3 linked regions of the Homo sapiens genome follow. The protein of the gene in region 2 interacts with the protein of the main gene of each other region in a pairwise test. Each region holds a gene or a part of one and is shown on either strand. Other genes may lie near its edges.

Region 1 (7,752 bases), on a different chromosome or scaffold from region 2:
GCCTCTAAAGAGTAATTAAGATTAAATGAAGTCATCAGGGTGGGGCCCCGATCGGACAGAATTCATGTCCATGTGAGAAGCGACACTGGAGAGCTCACTTTCTCTAATACCCACATTGCCTGCACAAGCACCTGAGGAAAGGCCATGTGAGGACATAGCAAGAAGGCAGCCGTCCACAAGCTGGGAAGAGAGCCCTCATCAGAAATCAAATCAGTTAGAATCTTAATCTTGGACTTCCAGCCTCCAGAACTGTGAGAAAATAAAACCTGTTGTTAAAGCCATTTGGCCTGTGGTATTTTGTGATGGCAGCCCAAGCTGCTGATACATCCTTGCACATCCAATATACATTAGTTATTGTTGTTATCTGTTGTTAACTGTTACTTCTCATGTCCAAAGTCCCACAACAAGGAAGTCAGTGAGTGGTTGAGCCCCACTGAGGAAGCAGGTCCTTCACTCATCAGGCCACCTTCCTGCTCTTGTGGCAAGAATACCCCCAGCTCCCCTCCTGGGACTCCCTGACTCCTTGATTGCCTCTATCCATCCCTCCACCTCAACCACAAGGGCAGGGCTCATGGTACAGGAGGGGTGTGTGTGTGTGTGTGTGTGTGAGACTAACCCAGAGGAAGGGGGGGTGTGGGGTAAGCACGAGGATCAAAAGAAGCAGGAAATTCTCTTCTGTCTCTGGTTCCTGGGAACTTCTTCTTTTTTTTTGCCTGCTCTTGTTGCCCAGGCTGGAGTGCAATGGCTCGATCTCAGCTCACTGCAACCTCCACCTCCCAGGTTCAAGTGATTCTCCTGCCTCAGCCTCCCGAGTAGCTGGGATCACATGCATGCACCACCACACCTGGCTAATTTTGTATTTTTAGTAGAGACAGGGGTTTCTCCATATTGGTCAGGCTGGTCTCGAACTCCCCACCTCAGATGATCTGCCTGCCTTGGCCTCCCAAAGTGCTGGGATTATAGGCACGAGCCACCGCACCTGGCCCAGGAACTTCTTTAAGCTCTAGGAAGATGGGGAGAGCTGGGGTAGTTCTGAGATTAACCGTCCCTACTCCAAATAGGAACAAGCCCAAGGAATGGGCATGGAAAGAAATCAACTGATCCTTCCTGATCCAAGTTCTTCCTTTGAAGATGCACTGAAGGTTCTTGGAGACATTTGAAAAATCTGAACCTCTTGCCCAGAACTCTAGAGGCATTATAAATAGATAACGTACTTTCACACCTACAAGGTGTCTGCTCACATACACCATCTCATTTTATCCTCATAAGAGACTGGCAAGCCTTACAGCTGGCAGAGCTCAGTCTTGGAAGAGACATACCTCATATGTGCACGTCACTTAAGAGGCCTTTCTCCTACCACCTTTTGTCATCACACAGATGTGTGTCTCTTCCTCTCAATGGTGAAGACGAGCCAGCCTAACCAATCAATGCCTGAATCCCATCGAGTACCCCATACAGGGCCTTGTATAAGTAGGTGCTCAATAAATTTTGTAGATGGATGAATAAATGCCAGTGACCAGATCAGGGAGAAGTAAAACAGGGTCTCCTACTGGAGAAAATAGTGTTGCTGTTGTTCTAAGGGAGCAAGCTCAGGCATCTGTTCCTACAGCCTGGTACATTCACTCTGAGGCAGGCACCTGACATCATTTTAATATTTATTATGTTATCATTATCATAACTGTCACTTATTGTCCACCATTCAAAGTTAAGTTCTTTGCAAATATCAACTCATTGTTTCTCACATCCACTGTTATGAGCTCCATTTAACAGATGAGGAAATGGAGGCACAGACAGGTTAAGTAATGTGCCCAAGGTTATTTAGCCAAAAATAGTGGAGCTGGGATTCAAACCTGATTGTTTATATCCTGGAATTACAATTTTCTTGTTTTGCTTTTTGAGACAGAGTTTCGCTCTTGTCGCCCAGGCTGGAGTGCAATGGCCCGGTCTCGGCTCACTGCAACCTCTGCCTCCCAGGTTCAAGTGATTCTCCTGCCTCAGCCTCCCCAGTAGCTGGGATTACAGGCGCACGCCATTACACCTGGCTAATTTTTGTGTTTTTAGTAGAGACGAGGTATCGCCATGTTAGCCAGGCTGGTCTCGAACTCCTGACCTCAGGTAATCCGCCTGCCTTGGCCTCCCAGAGTGCTGGGATTATAGGCATGAGCCACCATGCCAGGCCTCGGACTTAGAATTTTCTTTTCTTTTTTTCTTTGAGCGGAGTCTTGCTCTGTCCCCCAGGCTGGAGTGCAATGGCGTGATCTTGGCTCACTGCAACCTCTGCCTCCTGGGTTCAAGCGATTCTCCTGCCTCAGCCTCCTGACTAGCTGAGATTACAGGCACCCACCACCATGCCCGGCTAATTTTTGTATTTTTAGTAGAGACGAGGTTTCACCATATTGGTCAGGCTGGTCTCGAACTCCTGATCTCAGGTGATCCGCCTGCCTCGGCCTCCCAAAGTGCTGGGATTACACGCGTGAGCCACTGCGCCCGGCGACTTACAATATTCTAAGTTCCTCCACTTCCCTCAGCTTAGCCTCACAATGGTCCTGGCAAGCAGATAGGAGTTTCCGCCGACCACCCAAGGCCATAACTGCACATGGGGGCAGATGTGGAACTAGAACCCAGGTCTCCCTGGGGCTTGTTCTGACACACAAAGGTCTGCATTGTGAAAGGACATGAAAGGCACACCAGTGGGCTGCCCCACTGTGTGGGGACTTAGGACCCAGCTATATCCATGACTGTTAATTCACCTCGGGATGCAGCGTTCCTGTAAGAAAAGAAAAGGAGAGCTACGATACGTGGACAGAGGCTTTTGCTCCAGTTTCCATAGACACTGCCCCGTTTGCTCATGCTGTTCCCTCTTGTTAGAACATCTTCATCCCACGCTCTTACTTCTCGCTGACTCATCATGTTTCACAATACACTTGGATTTTTCTCTCTTCCGGGAAACCTCTGCCCCTCCCTGAAGAGGGATAAAGTGACCCTCCTCATACTCCCAGAGTACCAGGTGATTCTCTATAGCATTATCATTAAAAATCAGGGGCTGCATTCTCTCCCTCTGTCCCAGTAGTCTGGGAACTAACTCCTCAGGAGCAGGGACTCCCCTTTCTCATCCTGGTGTTTCCTATTGGCAATGCCTGCCACTCAGTAGTAGGCGCTTGTTGACTGAGACTATTGATCACAGGCAGGTTCGAATGTCTTTGTTCCCTCATCTCTACCCCTGTTAAGGGATTACGGAGTGTCCTATTCATTTCGGGCATATAGAAAATGCTGTTAAAGTTCATTGAATTGAATGAAACAATTAATCGTTCTGCAAAATCTGAGCAGAGAAGTCATTTGGTTTCAAAATACTTGGATAAAAACATTACGGTGGCTCACGCCTGTAATTCCAACACTTTGGGAGGCCGAGGCGGGTGGATTACTTGAAACCAGGAGCTCGAGACCCTGACTCTACTAAAAATACAAAAATGAGCCGGTCGTGGTGGCGCGCGCCTGTAAATCTCAGCTACTCAGGAGGCTGAGGCACGAGAACAGCTTGAACCGGGAGGCGGAGGTTGCAGTGAGCCGATATCGCCACTGAACTCCAGTCAGGGCGACAGTGAAACTCTGTCAGAAAAACAAGAAACAAAAAAACTGTGAGGTACTGAGATCACAAACTGGTGCTCAAAATATACTGATTTCCTTTCTCGTCTGGACTAAACGGGGGTAGGGAAGGGTGAGAAGGAGGGGATCGGCCCTCCCAACAAGTCTCATCTTCCCCAGATGCTGCTTGGTGCTCAGGGGCTGCAAGTACTCTGTCCTTGCACAGAGGGTTGGGGACTCCAGCTGTGCATGGGGGCACACATTAGGCCCACAGCTTGTAATGGACCAGTAGTAAAGTAAGGGAGGGGAAGCAGACTCTCTCTTGGAAAGGAGGCTCCTGAGTCCTTCTTGGGGCTTCCCCCACCAACTGTTTCCCAAACCAGCATACAGTAGGCACTTAGTAAATACTAAACCTAGTAAAGGACTGAATGATGGTAGACCGAACCCCCAAAGCAAAAGAGAAAGGGTCCAACAGCGCCTCCTTGCGGTGCTCTGCCCCAAGCCACGGGGAGAAACGTTGCAGCCCGCGCCGAACGCCGGGCAGCACAAAGGATCCCCGACTGCCGGGGAGCGGTGCTCGGAGGGCACAGGTCTACGCCATCCCCCACGCAGTTTCGGAGATGGAGCGCTGGGCCCATGGAGGGAAGGCGGCAGGCTCGGCGGCTCCGGCAGCTTGCTGGGGCAGGGGCTCAAGGCGGCAGTCCGATAGTGGAGGCCGCTGAGAACTGTCACGGAGCTGCGTCTGTACAGCGAGCATCCCTTATTTATTCAGGGCGAGTGTGTATTTGGGGCGGCGTGCAGGGGGCTGACAAAGACCGGAGAGCTCCCGGTGCGGCCGCCGGCGGAGCGAAGACTGGAACCCGTATGAGCGCCCCCCAGCGCCCCTGAGCGCTCGCCGCCGGTGCACGGCGCACCCCGCGGGAGGCAGGGATCAGCAAAGCCGTGCGCCCCGAGGCCCGCCCCCGTCTCCGCACAAAGACCGTGAGTCCCGGGTCCGAGCCTTCCGCGCGGGGATCGGGCGGTTGTCCGGCGGGTCGTCCTTCGACGGCCTCCTGGCCTCGCCGGAGCGGGTGCGGGGAGGCCCACGCAGCGACGGCTGGAGGAGGGGTGGGCGGGGCTGCCGGGGGTGGGGTCCCCGGGGCGGGGCGGGGCGCGCTGTGTCGCGGGTCGGAGCTCGGTCCTGCTGGAGGCCACGGGTGCCACACACTCGGTCCCGACATGATGGCGAGCATGCGAGTGGTGAAGGTAACCGCGTATAGGATGACCCCTTTCTCTTGGCTCCCCTCGCCTCCCGCATTCCCTCCTCCCTCCATCCCCTCCGCGGCTCTCCGAGCACATTTATTTATTTGTCTGGGCACCAGGGCTGGCTGAATCCCTGTCCTCCCCGCCCTCTACTCAGAGGAGGACTGGCCTGCAAGAGTGGCCAGAGCTGGGGTTTTGGGGGTTTGGAGGCCTCTGCTTGAGCCGTTCGCGTGGTGAAGATGAGCCGGCTCCCCCAAAACTGGTTTCAATTTCGCTTTTCCTGCCTGAAACTTGTGATAACAACTGGGTGCATCTCCAGTGCAGGAAAAGTCCTTGGCATCTTGGTGCCAGGCATTCTGCTACTGCTGGTGGTGGGTTATGAACACAGATGACCAGGATGAAGTCCTTGCCTTGGAATAAGCCCATAGCCCATCCCATAATTTGATGCCTGTATTACTAGAGTCCTGAGAAACACGGAATGCTGATTAGAATTTGGGACAAAGTTCCCTGAGTATTCTCTGGAGGAAAAGATGCGGAGGTGGACCTGGAAGGCCTCCTGGAGTAGGTGGCTTGCGTTCGTGAGTTCTACAAGTGTTGAATGCCTACATGTGCTGGCCCTGTTCTAGGAGGGGGGGGGGGGCGGGCAGAGATGAACACAAATCCGGCCCTTGTTGAATTTTGTTCCTATCAGGGACACAATTTGAAATAAGATCTGGAAGGATGGGGAGGGGGCAGTTTCCTCCAGAAGGTGGGAAAACCCAGGGTGTTTGGAGATGGATTAGGGAGGAAGGTGATCCTGGTGAAGTGAGTCTGGCACCCCAAGTCTTTCAGAAGTGCCCCTTCCAGTCTGCAGGGTGGAGGGGCAGGCTCTAGGAAGAGGGTGCCTGCTACCCTCAGCCTCTGAGAAGAAAATGGCCTCAGACTGGGATGCCCAGAGCAGGCTTGGCCTAGATACTAAATCTGGAGGTTGGCAGCAAAATGAGGCAGAGGGTCTTTCCAGCCAAGTGGAAGAGAGATGGGAGCCAGAATTTATTGCATTGGAACCATTACATGCCAAACGGTTTACATGGTTATTTCATCTAATTCGCACAGCAGTTCTGTGAGATAAGTAATATATACCCGCATTTTACAAATGAGGAAATTGAGGCACAGAGGAAATAACTTGCTTGTCCAGAGTCTTTCAGTAAGGAGCAATGGGACTGGAATATGAAACCAGGTCCACAGGCCTCCAGCCTGCAGGCTCTCTTAATGGCCTTTCTACTTTCATTTTCTGTTCCTCTGAGTCAGGTGATTTCCTAGTAGGCAGTAGGAAAGAACTGTGTGTTTTAGGTTGGGTTTCAACTTCCTCAGGCTTTGGGAAAGTTCTGGCAGAACTCATCCTAAACAGATAAAGTTCAAGTGTCTTTATCTTTCCAAGACCTGGAAAATGTCTATTCCAGATCTTCTCCGGTCAGCCCTGGGCTTTGTTCTTGCCAAAGAGTCACAGATGATAGAGAAACTCTTACAAGTGCAGATGCTTCTAGTTTGGGGTAAAGATAAATGAAGGGCCATTGACCCTGGGTGGAAGGCACCAGAAGCAGCTTATTGGTTGAACAGAAATAGAACATAGGCTGAGGGATAGGAGGGGGGCATGGGATGTGTTTATATTATATGTTGGGGGTGGGGGTAAGGCAGAGAAAGTTCAAATGGTCCACAGTGTTAAAGGACCCCTCCCCACTTGTGGACTGGGTTTGGAGAGCTTCAGTTTCTCAACCTCATCACTACTGACATTTTGGGTCACATAACTGTTATGTATCCATTGTATGTTTTTAGATTTGAGGTTACTACAAGGTTTGTAAATAATATCTTATAACCTGTTATTTTAAACTGATGACAAGTTAACACTGATTACATAAACAAACAAGCAAAATGAAAACTAATGAAGGCCAGGCGTGGTGTCCCACTCCTGTAATATCAGCACTTTGGGAGGCTGAGGTTCGCGGACTGCTTGAGCCTAGGAGTTCGAGACCAGCCTGGGTAACACAGCCAAACCCCATCTCTACAAAAAGTACCAAAATTAGCCGGGCATGGTAGCACACTGCTGTAGTCCTAGCTACTTGGGAGGCTGAGGTAGCAAGATCACCTGAGCCCAGGAGGTTGAGGCTGCAGTGAGCTGTGATTGTGCCACTGGACTCCAATCTGGGTGACAGAGTGAGACATTGTCTCAAAAAAAAAAAAAAAAAAAAAAAAAACAACTAATACAAACTGTATACTTTAACTTCGTCTTTCCGCTTACTAACTTTTTGTTGTTTCTATTTCTTTCCTTCTTTCTTTCTCTCTCCCTTTCTTTCCTTCCTTCCTTCCTTAAGATGGAGTTTCACTCTTGTTGCCCAGGCTGGAGTGCAATGGTGCCATCTCAGCTCACCGCAACCTCCGCCTCCCAGGCTCAAGTGATTCTCCTGCCTCAGCCTCCTGAGTAGCTGGGATTACAGGCAGGCACCATCACGCCTGGCTAATTTTGTATTTTTAGTAGAGACGGGGTTTCTCCATGTTGGTCAGGCTAGTCTCGAACTCCTGACCTCAGGTGATCCACCCACCTCAGCCTCCCAAAGTGCTGGGATTACATGAGCCACTGTGCCCGGCCATTTCTATTTCTTTCTTATTGTACTGTCTACCTCTTGAAAAATTGTTGTAGTTATTATATTTAATTGGTCATCTTTTCCTCTTTCTACTTAAGATATGAGTAGTGTATATACCATAAATACAGTGTTATACTAATCTGTGTTTTTCTTTCTTTTTTTTTTTGAGACGGAGTTTCGCTCTTGTTGCCCAGGCTGGAGTGCAATGGCACGATCTCAGCTCACTGCAACCTCCGCCTCGTGGGTTCAAGTGATTCTCTTACCTCAGCCTCCCGAGTAGCTGGGGTTACAGGCACCCGCCACCACGCCC
Region 2 (7,026 bases):
CAGAGGCCGAGGCAAGATGATGGCTTGAGCCCAGGAGTTTGAGACCAGCCTGGCCAATATAACGAGATGCCTTCTCTACAAAAAAAAAAAAAAAAATTGAATATAGCCAGGCGTAGTGGCACATGCCTGTAGTCCCAGCTACTCTGGAGACTGAGACAGATGGGAAGATTGCCTGAGCCCAGGAGTTTGAGGCTGCAGTAGGCCATGATCATGCCACTGCACTCCAGCCTGGGTGACAGAGTGATACCCTGTCTCTAAAATGAATGAATGAATGAATGAATGAATAAGCCCATTGCCTAGGAGTCAATCCTGAGCATGTCCCCTCGAAGCCCTCCAGAGGTGGCCCAGCCCTGGTATCATCTCCCCTTAAGCTCAGGCCATGGGATACAGACTCTGAAAGGTAGGGCCAAACTCTGCAGTCTCTGGCTACCGTGGTTTGGGAAACAAACAAACAAACAAACAAACAGACTTTTCCACTGACTTGAGAAGGACATGGGTTCTGATCCCACCACTAACTCACTGTGTGACTTTGGGTAAATTGCATGCTTTCCTGGGTCCCCAGCCTTCCCATCTGTCCAGTGGGGACTGCCAGGCTCAGTCCAGCACTCTGGGACTGGAAGGTGCCGGGTGGAGTCCCCACTATACAGAGTGACTCTGTGTCGTGAGGCCTGGGGTGATTTCAGGCTGACCCCGCTCTGTCAGCAGGAGCTGCGGCAGAGCCTTAGGAATGCGCTGGGCCTCTGGAGGTCATCCTGGGGCCTGAAGACACCATTGGAAACCCAGATCTATGCCCCAGCTTGGCCACCAACCCACTGTGGGGTCTCAGGAAGGTCATGACAAACAATTCTTCACAGAACATTCCAGAGTGCCTCTGGGCAGGACCCTCGGGGGCAACAGATGATAAACAGTCACAGGATGCTGGCCTCATTGCTTCTTGCAGCCTCAGTTTCCCCAACTGTCTGGTGATTCTGTACCTCTTGGATGATGAGAAGCAAATGGAAGCCTCTCTCTGTATGAGAGCGGAGTATTATGGGCTGTTCCTTCTCCCCAGCAGCACTCTCTTCTCTCCACATCCCACACCCTCTTTGTTTTTCTCCACTGACCTCTTCCTCCCCCGCTTTCCTGTCCATCTGTCTGCCTCTGGGGGGTCCTGTGGGGCCACATCCCCCTCGAGTTCCCCCAGCCCCACTTCCTGTCTGGACTGGGGTGTTTATACAAGAAATGCCTATGGATGCTTTGGAGGTCATATTTCACCTGGTGCCTGACTCGGCTTTCCTGCTGCGCCTGCCCCTCCAATGGCCTGGCCTGAGGGCCTGTCTGATCTCCCTCCTCAGGCCCTCTGTTTTCCTTGGTCGGCGCCCTGGCGGGGTGATGCATTCTTGGCAGGGTGTTTTTCTGAAAGGGCCCCAGCACCTCCAGGCCCTAGGGTGTTCCAAGGGATGTGGTGGGTTGGGGTGGGGGCTGTTTCCCCAGCCACAGAGCTGAAAGGAGGGGGTTGGGGAAAGGGTGACTCTGCCCTGGAAAGAACTAGAATAAATGGGGTGCACCAGTTGAGCAGAACTTTTCTCTGTGCTGAGAATTGTGTTCCTCTTCATTATCCTGCCAACCTCACAGAATGTCACCTCCACGAGAGCAGGATTCCCTAAAACCTAGCACAGTGTCTGGCACACAATAAGTAGTTATAAAAAAAGTGATTGAAAGGAAAAAAAAATCGGCCAGGCACAGTGGCTCACGCCTGTAATCCTAGCACTTTGGGAGGCTGAGGCGGGCGGATCACCTGAGGTCAGGAGTTCAAGACCAGCCTGGCCAATATGGTGAAACCCCGTCTCTACTAAAAATACAAAAACTAGCTGGGCATGGTGGTGGGTGCCTGTAATCCCAGCTACTCAAGAGGCTGAGGCAGGAGAATTGCTTGAACCCAGGAGGTGGAGGTTGTAGTGAGCCAATATCGAGCCACTGCACCCCAGCCTGGGCAACAAGAGTGAGACTCCATCTCAAAAAAATAAAAAACAACAAAAACAAAAACCAAAAAAACAGGAAAGAAAAAAAATCGTCCCAGGTAGGAACTGTTGTTATCTCAATCTTATCAGTGAGGCAACTGAGGCACAGAGAGGTTGAGGGACCAACCTGAAGTCCCACAGCTAGAAAATGGCAACTTGGGAGCTTACCATCCAGTCCTGTCAGAGCCCAGTGCATAGTGCAGCTGGGATGTCTCCTGGGGTGTCCTGCAAGAGCTATGGCTTTGTAGTCAGCAAGCCAGGTAGGTCAGTAGGACTCATCGGGAATGTACTTGGGGCTCCAGGGGTGGCTGTCACTCTGATGTTCCACTGCTGGCTGCCCTGTCCCTGCCTTCCCCCCTTTCCCTCCCATCCTCTCTCGTCCTTGAGACATTGAAACCCCAGCCTGGAAAGAAGCTGGAGCCTGCACCCAGCTCTACGGAGCAATCTCAGACAAGACTCTTCCCTCCTTCACCCCTCAAGCAACTCCTGATTGCCAGCCTTGTACCAGGCTCTGGGATGGGCACAGGGGTGCAGAGCCGAGGGAGATGTCATTCCTACCCAGCAGGGGCCCACTTACTAGCCAGGGAGACAGAAAATGTGGGACAATGTATTAAGACTGTTGACAAAAGGCTCTGGGAACATCCAAGTGCCTGAAAGAGAGGAAAGTTATCTCTGAAGAGGTCACTTTCAAGCTAGGTCTTGCAGGATGAGTAGGAGTTTGCCAGTTGAATACAGGGTTTGGGTAGGGTCATTCTAGGCAGGTGGAGTTGCAATGCAGTGGCGCTAGGGAGGTAAGCTAGGGTTAAATTGAGAAGGTCCTTGAATGCCAGACTAAAGAGTTCAGCATTTTACTATGTGTCAAGGAGCTAAAGAAGGTTCCTAAACTCAGGATCATCTGTGATTCAGTTGGCACTTTAGAAGGATCACTCTGACAGTGAGTTTGCTGGCAAAGACAAGAGTTGACTTGTAGACCAAGTGAGTTGGAAAGACCTGTGGGACCCCAGAGGGATGTGTTGGGGAGACTGTTGGAAAAATGGGTGTGGCACTCAGGAGACAGGCAAGGCCATCTATATGGACTTGGGAACCATCCTTAAAGCAGTTCAAGTTGAAAATGGGGGCAGGTGTTCAGGGTGAGGATGGAAGGCGCTGACCTGGATGAGCCCCGAGGAACATGGGAGGCAGAGAGGCAGCAGTCACAGAGATGGGAGGCAAAGCAGAACTTTCAACTAGGAGAGGGTGGCGAGTGGGCTAAGTGCTGCAGAGTGGTCTAGGAGGAGCCAGAGGAGTAGCTGCGGAGTCTGGGCGCCTGTGGAGGGCAGCTCCAGGTGGTGCAGGGACGACGGACCCCATCTTCCCCATCAGCAACATGCCGCTGCAGAGGCCTCCACCCTCCCCGGGTGAGGGGGCTCAGGAAGGCCACGGCAGCCTGGCCGTGCATCCCCAGACTCTCGTCCGCCCCCCTTTGTCTGCCTGGCGTTCTGGGTGGGCATGCGCAGCGAGGCTGGCCCACCGCCAGCAGTTCTTCCTGCAGGCCAGCAGCCGCGCGTCGGGGAGGGAACAGGCCCTAATTGAGCCTTTGTAGAGCCTCCCACAGAGCCCTGGGCACTGAACACAGTGGGGTTTCTGACTCCATGAACTCCCAGCCAGAATCCCACAAAGTAAAATTGCAGAGGCAGGCCCCACATGCTGCTGCAGCCTGGCCGCACTTCTATAGCCCGTGTCGTCCTGACGTTAAGCCCTTCCTCATGCGGCTCCCTCTGCCTGTTCCCCTGACCCCCAACTGACATCCTGCCCATCCCTCAGGCCCCGGCTCAGAACCCGTCTCTCAATGAAGACTTCCGGGAAACGCTTATTAGAATTGCAGTCTTCAATAACCAGGCTCTTTCTCTGCGCCTTGGAGTGCGCACAACAACACCCCCTCATTTCATCTTCACCACAATCCTACAATGCAGTTTTTGTTACTCCTTTCACAGATAAGAAAACTAAGGTTCACAGCTCTTAGGCAACTGACGTTGCCATAGCTAGAGACCCAGAGCTAGAGTCCTTACGCAGACTGTCAGGCACCAAACCTGTGCCCTTCACTACTTCACCCTTCCTGAGCCTCACAGTGCCCTTGGGGGCAGAGAAAACCATGAAAGTTCATGCTTACCTCCCTGATCCTGTCTATAAACACCAGTCCTTGCTCCTTAGCCAGAGGGTCCTAGAGGTAACAGGAGACAGCGAGTAACCACCAAGGTTTTCTCAATACGTTGCAATTTACAAAGCTCTTTGATGTCTGTGATCTTGTCATCTTTCCTTGAGCCCCCTGAATGAGCCCCATGAATGATTTTTTTAAAATAAAGACTTCAGCCGGGCACGATGGCTCACGCCTGTAATCCCAGCACTTTGGGAGGCCAAGGTGGGCAGATCACCTAACGTCAGGTGTTTGAGACCAGCCTGGCCAACATGGTGAAACCCCATCTCTACTAAAAATACAAAAATTATCCGGGCATAGTGGCGGGCTCCTGTAATCCCAGCTACTAGGGAGGCTGAGGCTGGAGAATCGCCTGAACCCAGGAGGTGGAGGTTGCAATGATCCGAGATCGTGCCATCACACTCCAGCCTGGGTGACAGGAGCAAAACTCCATCTCAAAAAACTAATAATAATAAAAGCAAAAAAAATAAAGACTTCACTATGTCCTTGAGAGAACATCTTCACCCTGTCCCCTAGCCCTCACTCCAGCTCCCTCATCCCTCCTACCCCCAAGCCAGAAACCTGGGCATTATCCCCAGCTCCTTTCTCTTCTGTACCCCTCTAGCCAACACAGCAGGGTCAAAGAGGCTGCCCTCTAGATGTTTCTCAAACCGTGTTCCTCACCATTGCTGCTGCTCCTCTAGTTCAGGCCTCATTTTCTCACCTGGGCCATTTCATTAGCTATTTAATGGACCACATAGAACATGCCCATCCTTTCCTACCACCATGCTTTTGCATGTGACATTTCCCCCACCACGCGTGCCCTTTCCCACCCTTTCCTCTCTGTGTGTCAAGGCTCTCGATTTCCTCCTCTCACCCAGAGATCACCCCATCTGCTCCCCCAGCCATAACCCCTGACGACTGTCCCCCACAGTCTTCCACCAAGAGCCTGCGGACCACTATCGGCGAGGCCTTCGAGCGGCTGCACCGGCTGCTGCGTGAACGCCAGAAGGCCATGCTAGAGGAGCTGGAGGCGGACACGGCCCGCACGCTGACCGACATCGAGCAGAAAGTCCAGCGCTACAGCCAGCAGCTGCGCAAGGTCCAGGAGGGAGCCCAGATCCTGCAGGAGCGGCTGGCTGAAACCGACCGGCACACCTTCCTGGCTGGGGTGGCCTCACTGTCCGAGCGGTAAGTGCCACCCGCCGGGGCCCTCCCCGGCTGACCATCCCCTCCTCGACCCATGCTGGGCAGTGGGAGTGGAGGCAGATGGGATCCTTAGCAGAGAATTCTTTCATTCAAATCTTCATCAAACATTTACGGGACATCTGCTATGGGTAGGAGCATGAAGCCTTGAGTATGAAGCCAGTGAGGCTTGAACTAGAGGAGCAGCAGCAATGGTGAGGAACACAGTTTGAAAACCATCTAGAGGGCAGCCACTTTGACCCTGCTGTCTTGGCTCTAGGGGTGCAGGAGAGAAAGGATCTGGGAATAAAGACTTCATATATTTACATTATTATATATGTAATATATTCTGTATACATTATAGATAGTAGGTAGCATTTAATAGTGTTTACAATCATAATATAAATATATTACATATTATTTTATTTATGATAATGTTGGCATTACGTGTTACTATATAAAGGCTTTATATTACTGTAACCCTCTCAGTCCCTTTGAAAGTAGTTACCACTGTCATCATCATTTCATGCATGTAGAAACTGAGGCTCCTGCTGGGCACGGTGGCTCACACCTGTAATCCCAGCACTTTGGGAGGCCGAGGCAGGTGGATTACCTGAGGTCAGGAGTTCAGGACCAGCCTGACTAACATGGTGAAACCCCGTCTCTACTAAAAAAAAATACAAAAATTAGCCGGGCGTGGTGGCAGGCACCTGTAGTCCCAGCTATTCAGGAGGCTGAGGCAGGAGAATTGCTTGAACCCAGGAGGCAGAGGTTGCAGTGAGCTGAGATCGCGCCATTGCACTTCAGCCTGGGCAATAAGAGCGAAACTCTGTCTCAAAAAAAAAAAGAAAAAAAAGAAAAAAACTGAGGCTCTGAAAAGCTACATCAGTTGGCCAAGGCCCCCCATCTGGTAACTGGTAAGCCAGGATTCAAGCCTAGGTCTCTGTGACCCCAAATCTTCCCTTAGTAGTAATAACACTTAGTCATTGGTTTGTTGGTGATCAATACTGATTGCTAAGATCATGAATTTGGCATTGACCGTGACCGAGCACTGTGCTGAGCATCTGTATATGTTATGCCATGTAATTCTCACAAAAAGCCTAGAAGGCTGATGCTAGCATAGCACCCATTTTAAAGATGAGAAGACTGAGGGAATGGTTAGAGAGGCCAGAAGCAGCACAAGCAGGCACTTGAATCTGAGTCCCACAGACTTCTCACTCATGACCACATCCTATGCCAGCTGCCCTGAAGGTGGCTGCGGGGCCCCTGGCATTGGGGCAGGAATCCAGTCCCTGGTGCAGCCCCCTTTCCTGCTCTCCTTCCAGGCTCAAGGGAAAAATCCATGAGACCAACCTCACATATGAAGACTTCCCGACCTCCAAGTACACAGGCCCCCTGCAGTACACCATCTGGAAGTCCCTGTTCCAGGACATCCACCCAGGTAAGGCATGGGTTATCATGGTCCAGAGCTAGGTGGGGCATGTCCCAGCACAGCCCAGCCCCCTGTCCTAAACACAGCATGGGGCAGTTGGGGTGAATGAGCAGAGTGCCTTGCTGAGCACCTAGTGTGTTCCAGGACCTGTCCTGGGCACCTGCACAATCACTCAGCTCAGTGGACCTTCATAACACCCCAGGAGATGGCTGGGCGTGGTGGCTCACACCTGTAAT
Region 3 (7,108 bases), on a different chromosome or scaffold from region 2:
AATCTTTCAATTTTCCGTTCTATTTCTAAATGCCAAAAAAAGATAAGACTCACATTTATTTTTATTTTTTCTTTTTCTTTTTTTTGCTCCTGCCTAAAAAGTAAGGACTCACATTTTTGATGATGCATTTGTTTTTACAAGAATATTGAGCTTCCAAGTAAAACCTTTGTGAAATCAGAGCATAAGCTATTAAGGTCACTAAAATAAATATAAAATACCTTTTAATTATAAACACTACGATTAAAACGTATGTGGAGAGAACCCCAAAAAAATTTTAAGACATGTAAAAAAGGCAAAAAGAAATCAATCATGTGTTTCTAACGGTTAATCACTATCTTGTAAAAAGAATCCCAAAAATTATCAATAGAAATTCACAATATTTGAAGAACACTCAAAGGTATTTTCGCTCTGTAGATCTCCAGATACCACTGTCTACTGATTGAGGGACTCCAACTTGATCCAGCAATCAAGCTACGTAGACGAACAGAAACAGAATTAAAGCAATTAAGTGAGTCAATTCAACTCACCACACTTCGGTTTTTGTGTGTACCTAATAAAAATGTTGCAACAGAAGAAGTAATGTGGCGTTAAACCAATCAGAGTTTGGGAAGAGTAGTAATTAGCATAAGAAACTGAAAATTAATTAAGTGGCTTTTAGGGCCAGGCGCGGTGGCTCACGCCTGTAATCCTAGCACTTTGGGAGGCTGAGGTGAGTGGATCATTTGAGGACAGGAGTTCAAGACCAGCCAGGCCAACATGATGAAACCCCGCCTCTACTAAAAATACAAAAATTAGCCGGGCCTGGTGACAGGCGCTTGTAGTCCCAGCTACTCGGGAGGCTGAGACAGGAGAATCGCTTGAACCCGGGAGGTGGAGGTTGCAGTGAGCCAAGATCGTGCCTGGGAGATCTGCACTCCAACCTGGGCAACACAGCGAGACTGTCTCAAAATAATAATAATAATAATAATAATAAGTGGCTTTTTTTTTCTTTTTGAGAAATGATCTTGCTCTGTTGCCAGGGATGGAGCGCAGTGGTATGATCTACTCACCGCAGCCTTGAACTCCTAGGCTCAAGCAATCCTCCCACCTCAGCCTCCCCAGTAGCTGGGACTACATGTCGGTGCCACTACATCCAGCTCATTTTCTTATTTCTGTAGAGATGGGGCCTCACTATGTTTTGCCCAGGCTGGTCTGCAACTCCTCGCCCCATGTGAATCTCCAGCCTCCGTCTCCCAAACTGCTAGGATTACAGGCGTGAGACACCGCGCCAGGCCCAAGTGGCATCATAAACCATCTCTAGGAAATCTAAAGGATTAATAATGATATTCACTTCTCTATCAGATTCACTGCAAAGATTTTTCTATATAAGCATAATGCAGCAACACTAACTTATATACACAATAATCTTCTCCATAGCAATGATTTGTCAGACATTAGGAAATCCTTTACATATTTAATATAATAATCCAATCCTTTATATCTTCAATAATCCAATCACAAAGTTCAAAAATATTAAGAGAAGTTATCATGCAACTCCTCACCCCAATTTTATTGCAAATTTTACTTTACTTTGACCTGATGTTCCATGCCCACAAGCTAGATAACAATGCGTCAAATATCTCGTTATCATTGCAAAGCAAAAAAATAAAACTTGCTTTAATATAAAACGGTAACTAGTATACAACCTGTAGTAGTTAAAACAATATAAAATTTTACTTAACCAGATATTGCACGTTAAACTCTAGGAACATTAACAGTGGAAACATTCTCCGCATCTAACAAATTACGAGATAAAGTATAGATCCGTTGAGAGGGAACTAACATTCTGACCTCCTTCCAAAACGACAAACTAGAACGGCAAAATTACACTCAGGCACATTGGAGTACTCTTCTCTCAAATCACTCCACAGAGAACTTCATCATTTGCTCCGCCCTCTAATAACTCATGCAAGAAAAGTTCAGCACCATCAGAGAGAAACAAGACAGAGAGAATTCATAGAATGGCTTTAGGGCCTTTCCTCCAGGCGGTAAGAGGATCTGCGTGTGTCCTTCGCAGGGGTCCAAAGGGAGAGAACCTAGGCCTAGGGTTTCGGGGATACCGACACCCAGAAACAGATTTTCTCTCAAAGAAGTTTCTGCCGCCATCCCTATCTTATCAGCAGGAGGCCCCGGCGCCATCGTCTCCGTCTTTATGATTTTATTATGGGGAGGTGGGAAACGCCACCCTGGATTCTTCCAGGCCTCCCCTATTCAGCTTGGGGGTTCCCCCTCATTCTTCCCTCAAAGCCTCAGTCCCTGAGGTCCTCCTCAGCACCCCCCGCTTCTGGCGGCCTGTCCCCCGTGAAGTGTAAAGGCACGGCCGAACCCACCGGCCTTGCCGTGAAGGCGGGAGGGCCCGAACCCGCCAGGGCCACGGCGATGGCTCCGAGGGGCCCAGAAAGGGGAAGGGCAGGCCGGGGACCGGGGCAGAATGACCTGGCCGGGGAAGAAAGGAAAAAAGGAGGTGAGGAGATGCACCGCACCGCAGGGCTGCACAGAGAAGGGAAGATGATGAAGGAGGAGGAGGAGGGCGGTGGCCCGGGTGCGGCCCCCTACTCCTCCCGCCCCCGGGTCCCCGGGCCGGCGGGGGCGGACGGACTCGGCCCATTCCCAGGTCTGGGCTGGCGGGGGGTTGGGGGATCTCCCTCCACGCTACTAGGAGACAGAGAACGAGGGTATCGGGAGCGGGGGGGGGCTGTCTCCCGCCTGAACCCGGAGACCCCGACGCCGTCGTCGCCTCTTCCTCAGGAGGGAGGACGGCAGCTGTGGGTAAAGCCCGAAGGAGGAATGCCTGAAGGTAAGGGGAAGCCCGGGGCAGACCCGCTGCCCGCTCCGGACCCCACTCTCCACCTTCCGGTAACCGCGTCTCTTACCGGTAATGGTGGTGAACTGTTGAATTAACCCCTTCAGCGCCGAGGACGCCGCGGAGCCCCCGTGGGCAGCCATCTTACCGCCGCCGCCGCCGCCGAACAACAACACAGACACACACGGACTGCCCTCCCCCACTTCGCCGTGCGGTGTGCGCAGGCGCATTGACCGCCCCTCGAGCCCCGCCCCTCCCGTCCCCAGCGGTCTGCGCAGGCGCATTTTCCGACCGGGCCCGCGCGCTCCCAGCTCTCGGGTTGGCTGCTCGGTTGCTGCCTGCTCAGTGCATCCTTTTTGCCATTGCTGGTGCCTTCCTCTCCGGGCTCCAAGGCTAGCCTCGCAGGCGCGGTGTCGATTCCTAGATTCCGAAGGAAGCTTCGGTCTCGGCAGATAGTTCTTCGCATTTCAGCTTCGCAAGCTTTATTGACAGAGCCAACTGCCGATGACAGCATTTTTCTGTTTTGCGGTTGTACCGCACTCTATTAGGTTTCCTGCAGGTCCCATCAAAATGCAAACCCTACCTCCTCGCTTTGAAGCGACTCTCCCCGTACTCGCCCCCCAGCCTCTAAACTAATGGCTTAGCTAACCGATTGCGACGAGTGAAATACCAGAACCCTTCATGCCAAAGAAAGCACTTAGCGCGGGGTTGCCACCCAGTAGGTTTTCATAAACGATTGTTTAGTCTGCTTTCCTTAAATAAATTGGCCATCACGTCTCCCGTTAGGGTCTTAATGAGACCCCAAGAGGCGTCATTTGTATAAAAAGAAACTCTGTATATGCAGTAGAGGAAAGAAAACATATAGAAAGGAGACTGGAAAAGTGTGCTCAAAACGCTGGTAACGGTTACCTCCAGAGAAGAGAACGATCGGGACGATGGTCAAAGCGGACCTTACTTCGAGTTTCTTATTTATCTTTTTATTTTTAAACAAACATTATTGGCCGGGCGCGGTGGCTCATGACTGTAATCCCAGCACTTTGGAAGGCCGAGGTGGGAGAATCGCTTGAGGCAAGGAGTTCGAGACCAGACTGGGAAATATATCAAGAATCCATCTCAAAAAAAAAAAAAAAAAAAAGATATTCGTGTGTTCCTTGAATAATTTTAAGTATTTTGCAAAACAGTTACATGAGTGGGGTGCGCTCAAATCCAATAATCCCCCACCTTGCCCATAAAGTTAAAAGAGATTCCAAGTGATTCCGTTTGTTTTAGCCTCCCACCTTCCAACCTCCACCCACATATTTTGCATCTTCATAGGAAAATGGCCCAATAAAAGATGGGATGAGCTGTCTGAAGAATTGACACATCCTAAGAGTAAACATGCTATTGGGGAGAATTAAGAAAGAGCCATGTCAAATCAAGGGGTATAGTTTTTTGTTTTGTTTTGTTTGACAGGGAGTCTCGCTCTGTCGCCCAGGCTGGAGTGCAGTGGTGCAATCTCAGTTTACTGAAAGCTCCGCCTCCCGGGTTCAAGCGATTCTCCTGCCTCAGCCTCCCAAGTAGCTGGGATTACAGGCACACGCCACCACGCCTGGCTAATTTTTGTATTTTTAATAGAGACGAGGTTTCACCATGTTGAGCAGGCTAGTCTCAAACTACTGACCTCAAGTGATCCACCCGCCTCGGCCTCCCAAAGTGTTGGGATTACAGGCGTGAGCCACCACACCCAGTCGGGCTGTAGTTTCAAGAAGATATGATTGATGTAAAAGAAAGCAGACTCCAGTAATCCCAGCACTTTGGGAGGCCGAGGCGGGCGGATCGCCCGAGGTCAGGAGTTCCAGACCAGCCTGGTCAACATGGCGAAACCCCATCTCTACTAAAAATACAAAAATTAGCTGCTGTGGTGGCGCGGGCACCTGTAATCCCAGCTACTTGGGAGGCTGAGGCAGGAGAATCACTTGAACCCGGGAGGCAGAGGTTGCAGTGAGCCGAGATCATGCCACTGTGCTCCAGCCTGGGTGACAGAGCAAGACTCCGTCTCAAAAAAAAAAATGTATTTTAAGTTAAATGACAGATTGGTCCTGGCACTGCCTTCCAGGTTGCTGCAGTTCTCTAGATGGGCTGAGGAAGGGCAGGGATCAGTCATAAATTTCGGCAGCTGATTCCTTCACATTTGATGCAGAGGTGCAAAAACAGGCAAGGGAAGAAAGCCAAATCAAGAAAGTGTTACCTCTGTCTCCCTTCATCCTAAAGGCTGAGTCACTAGCCAGCCATGCAAAATCAAGCTCCACGTAAAATGGTATAACACCATTAACTACAAAAACTAAACACAGTGATTACTGTACCTCCATCAGATGGAGAGGCCAGTAATGAGCTCTGCAGGTTTATCAGGTTTATTTCCAAAATCTTATAATTCAGATTTAATGATATGATTTTGATTAACAGTGCAGGAAAAGGTGATAAAGTCTGTGGCATCCACAACTCCAGAAGGCATTTTTTTAGAAATTAAAAAATAAGATAAAAGAAAATTAGACAGGTGGCCAAAAAGATTCCATGGTCGGGGGGAGGGGGGGAAAGAAGGGAAGAAAATGAGACAGTTTCCATGGATAACCAGGGAACTGGGAAAAATAAATAAAGAAGTAATGAATAATACAACCTTGAAAAGCTTTTTTGGATTATTAAAGAATATGAAGGACTGACCAGTTGCGGTGGCTCACACCTGTAATCCCAGCACTTTGGGAGGCCGAGGCTGGGGATCACCTGAGGTCAGGAGCTCCAAACCCGCCTGACCAACATGGTGAAACACCATCTTTACTAAAAATACAAAATTAGCTGGGCGTGATGGTGCGTGCCTGTAATCCCAGCTACTCGTGTGGCTGAAGCAGGAGAATCGCTTGAGCCCGGGAGGTGAAGTTTGCAGTGAGCCAAGAATGAGCTACTGCACTCCAGCCTGGGCAACAGAGTGAGACTCCGTCTCAAAAAAAAAAAAAAAAAAAAAAAAAAAGAATATGAATATGAAGGATGGGTGTCGTGGCTCATGCCTGTAATCCCAGCACTTTGGGAGGCCAAGACAGGAGGATCACTTGAGCCCAGGAGCTTGAGACCAGCCTAGGCAACATAGGGAGACCCTATCTCTGAAAAAAGAAAAAAAAAGTTTAATTAGCCAGGTGCGGTGGTGCAAGCTTGTAGTCCCACCTACTCTGGAGGCTGAGGCGGGAGGATCACTTGGGCCCAGGTGGTCGAGGCTGCAGTGAGCCATGATGACACCACTGCACTCCAGCCTGGGTAAGATATGTGGAAATCACAAGGAACAGTGGAGGATCTCATACTAGTAACAGTAGAACTGTCACAACCCATACGTCCAAAGAGATGAGAACAGAGAGAAGTTAGAGAAATCCCAAGTGAGATTTTTTTGCAGAGCAAACCACCATGCAAGAAGCAATGACCTTCTGTCAAGGGACATAAATAAGCAGCTTGAGGCAATCTCAGAGAGGAGCTCAGGGACATAGATACCCTGACCTCGATCTCCTCTTCTGTCTCCTGCCAGGAATCCCCAATGGCTGAACCCAAATGGAAGACAGAGGGCACAGCAAGAAGCCCCTTGTAGTTCCCACAGGCAGCCCCGGGGCAGAGAGCAGGATGGAAAAGAGGAAATTGATGGACACAAATGTAAAATGGAATGGTCATGGAAATACATTCCAAAACTTGAGGAGCTTTTTGGTTTGTTTGGGTCTTTTTTGTTTCATCTTGTTTTGTTTTTTGAGACAGGGTCTCTCTCTGTCGCCCAGGCTGGAGTGCAGTGGCAGGATCTTGGCTCACTGCAGCCTCTGCCTCCTGGGTTCAAGCGATTCTCCTGCCTCAGCCTCCCAAGTAGCTGGGATTACAGGAGCAGGCCACCATGCCCAGCTAATTTTTGTATTTTTAGTAGAGACAAGGTTTCACCATGTTGGTCAGGCTGGTCTTGAACTCCTGACATCAAGTGATCCACCTGTCTCAGCCTCCCAAAGTGCTGGGATTACAGGGTGAGCCACAGAGCCTGGCCCGAAACTGATGGAGTTTTAACAGAAGCTAAAGGAGAATATATAAGCTTAACTGGTTATATTAGAGAAGAAGACTGGAAAATAAGTAGCTCAGCATTTCATCAAGAAGTTAATAAAGGAACAACAACTCAGCAGACAAGGAAAAATGTGAAGAAAAAATGCTAAAGAGCAGAAATTGACAAAATAGAATACAAAATACAGAAGAGAGGATTCATAAAACCAAAAGCTG

The links. Proteins that work in one complex are often made in the same cells at the same time.
Region 1: the proteins of TRIM62 (region 2) and UBE2L6 interact in binary tests that used the Homo sapiens proteins (3 or more experiments, as listed by UniProt).
Region 3: the proteins of TRIM62 (region 2) and UBXN7 interact in binary tests that used the Homo sapiens proteins (3 or more experiments, as listed by UniProt).

What each region holds. Positions count from the first base shown.
Region 1 is NC_000011.10:57,564,660-57,572,411, reverse strand, and holds the start of UBE2L6 (ubiquitin/ISG15-conjugating enzyme E2 L6), read left to right. Parts: upstream 1-4,739; 5' UTR 4,740-4,800; coding exon 4,801-4,827; intron 4,828-7,752. UniProt on the Homo sapiens protein: Catalyzes the covalent attachment of ubiquitin or ISG15 to other proteins. Functions in the E6/E6-AP-induced ubiquitination of p53/TP53. Promotes ubiquitination and subsequent proteasomal degradation of FLT3.
Region 2 is NC_000001.11:33,158,026-33,165,051, reverse strand, and holds part of TRIM62 (E3 ubiquitin-protein ligase TRIM62), read left to right. Parts: exon of another isoform or gene 1-4,086; coding exon of another isoform or gene 4,087-4,200; intron 4,201-5,107; coding exon 5,108-5,364; intron 5,365-6,683; coding exon 6,684-6,799; intron 6,800-7,026. UniProt on the Homo sapiens protein: E3 ubiquitin ligase that plays a role in antifungal immunity by mediating 'Lys-27'-linked ubiquitination of CARD9 downstream of C-type lectin receptors; leading to CARD9 activation, followed by activation of NF-kappa-B and MAP kinase p38 pathways.
Region 3 is NC_000003.12:196,429,415-196,436,522, forward strand, and holds the start of UBXN7 (UBX domain-containing protein 7), read right to left. Parts: upstream 3,014-7,108; 5' UTR 2,986-3,013; coding exon 2,913-2,985; exon of another isoform or gene 2,788-2,912; intron 2,028-2,787; exon of another isoform or gene 1,971-2,027; intron 1-1,970. UniProt on the Homo sapiens protein: Ubiquitin-binding adapter that links a subset of NEDD8-associated cullin ring ligases (CRLs) to the segregase VCP/p97, to regulate turnover of their ubiquitination substrates.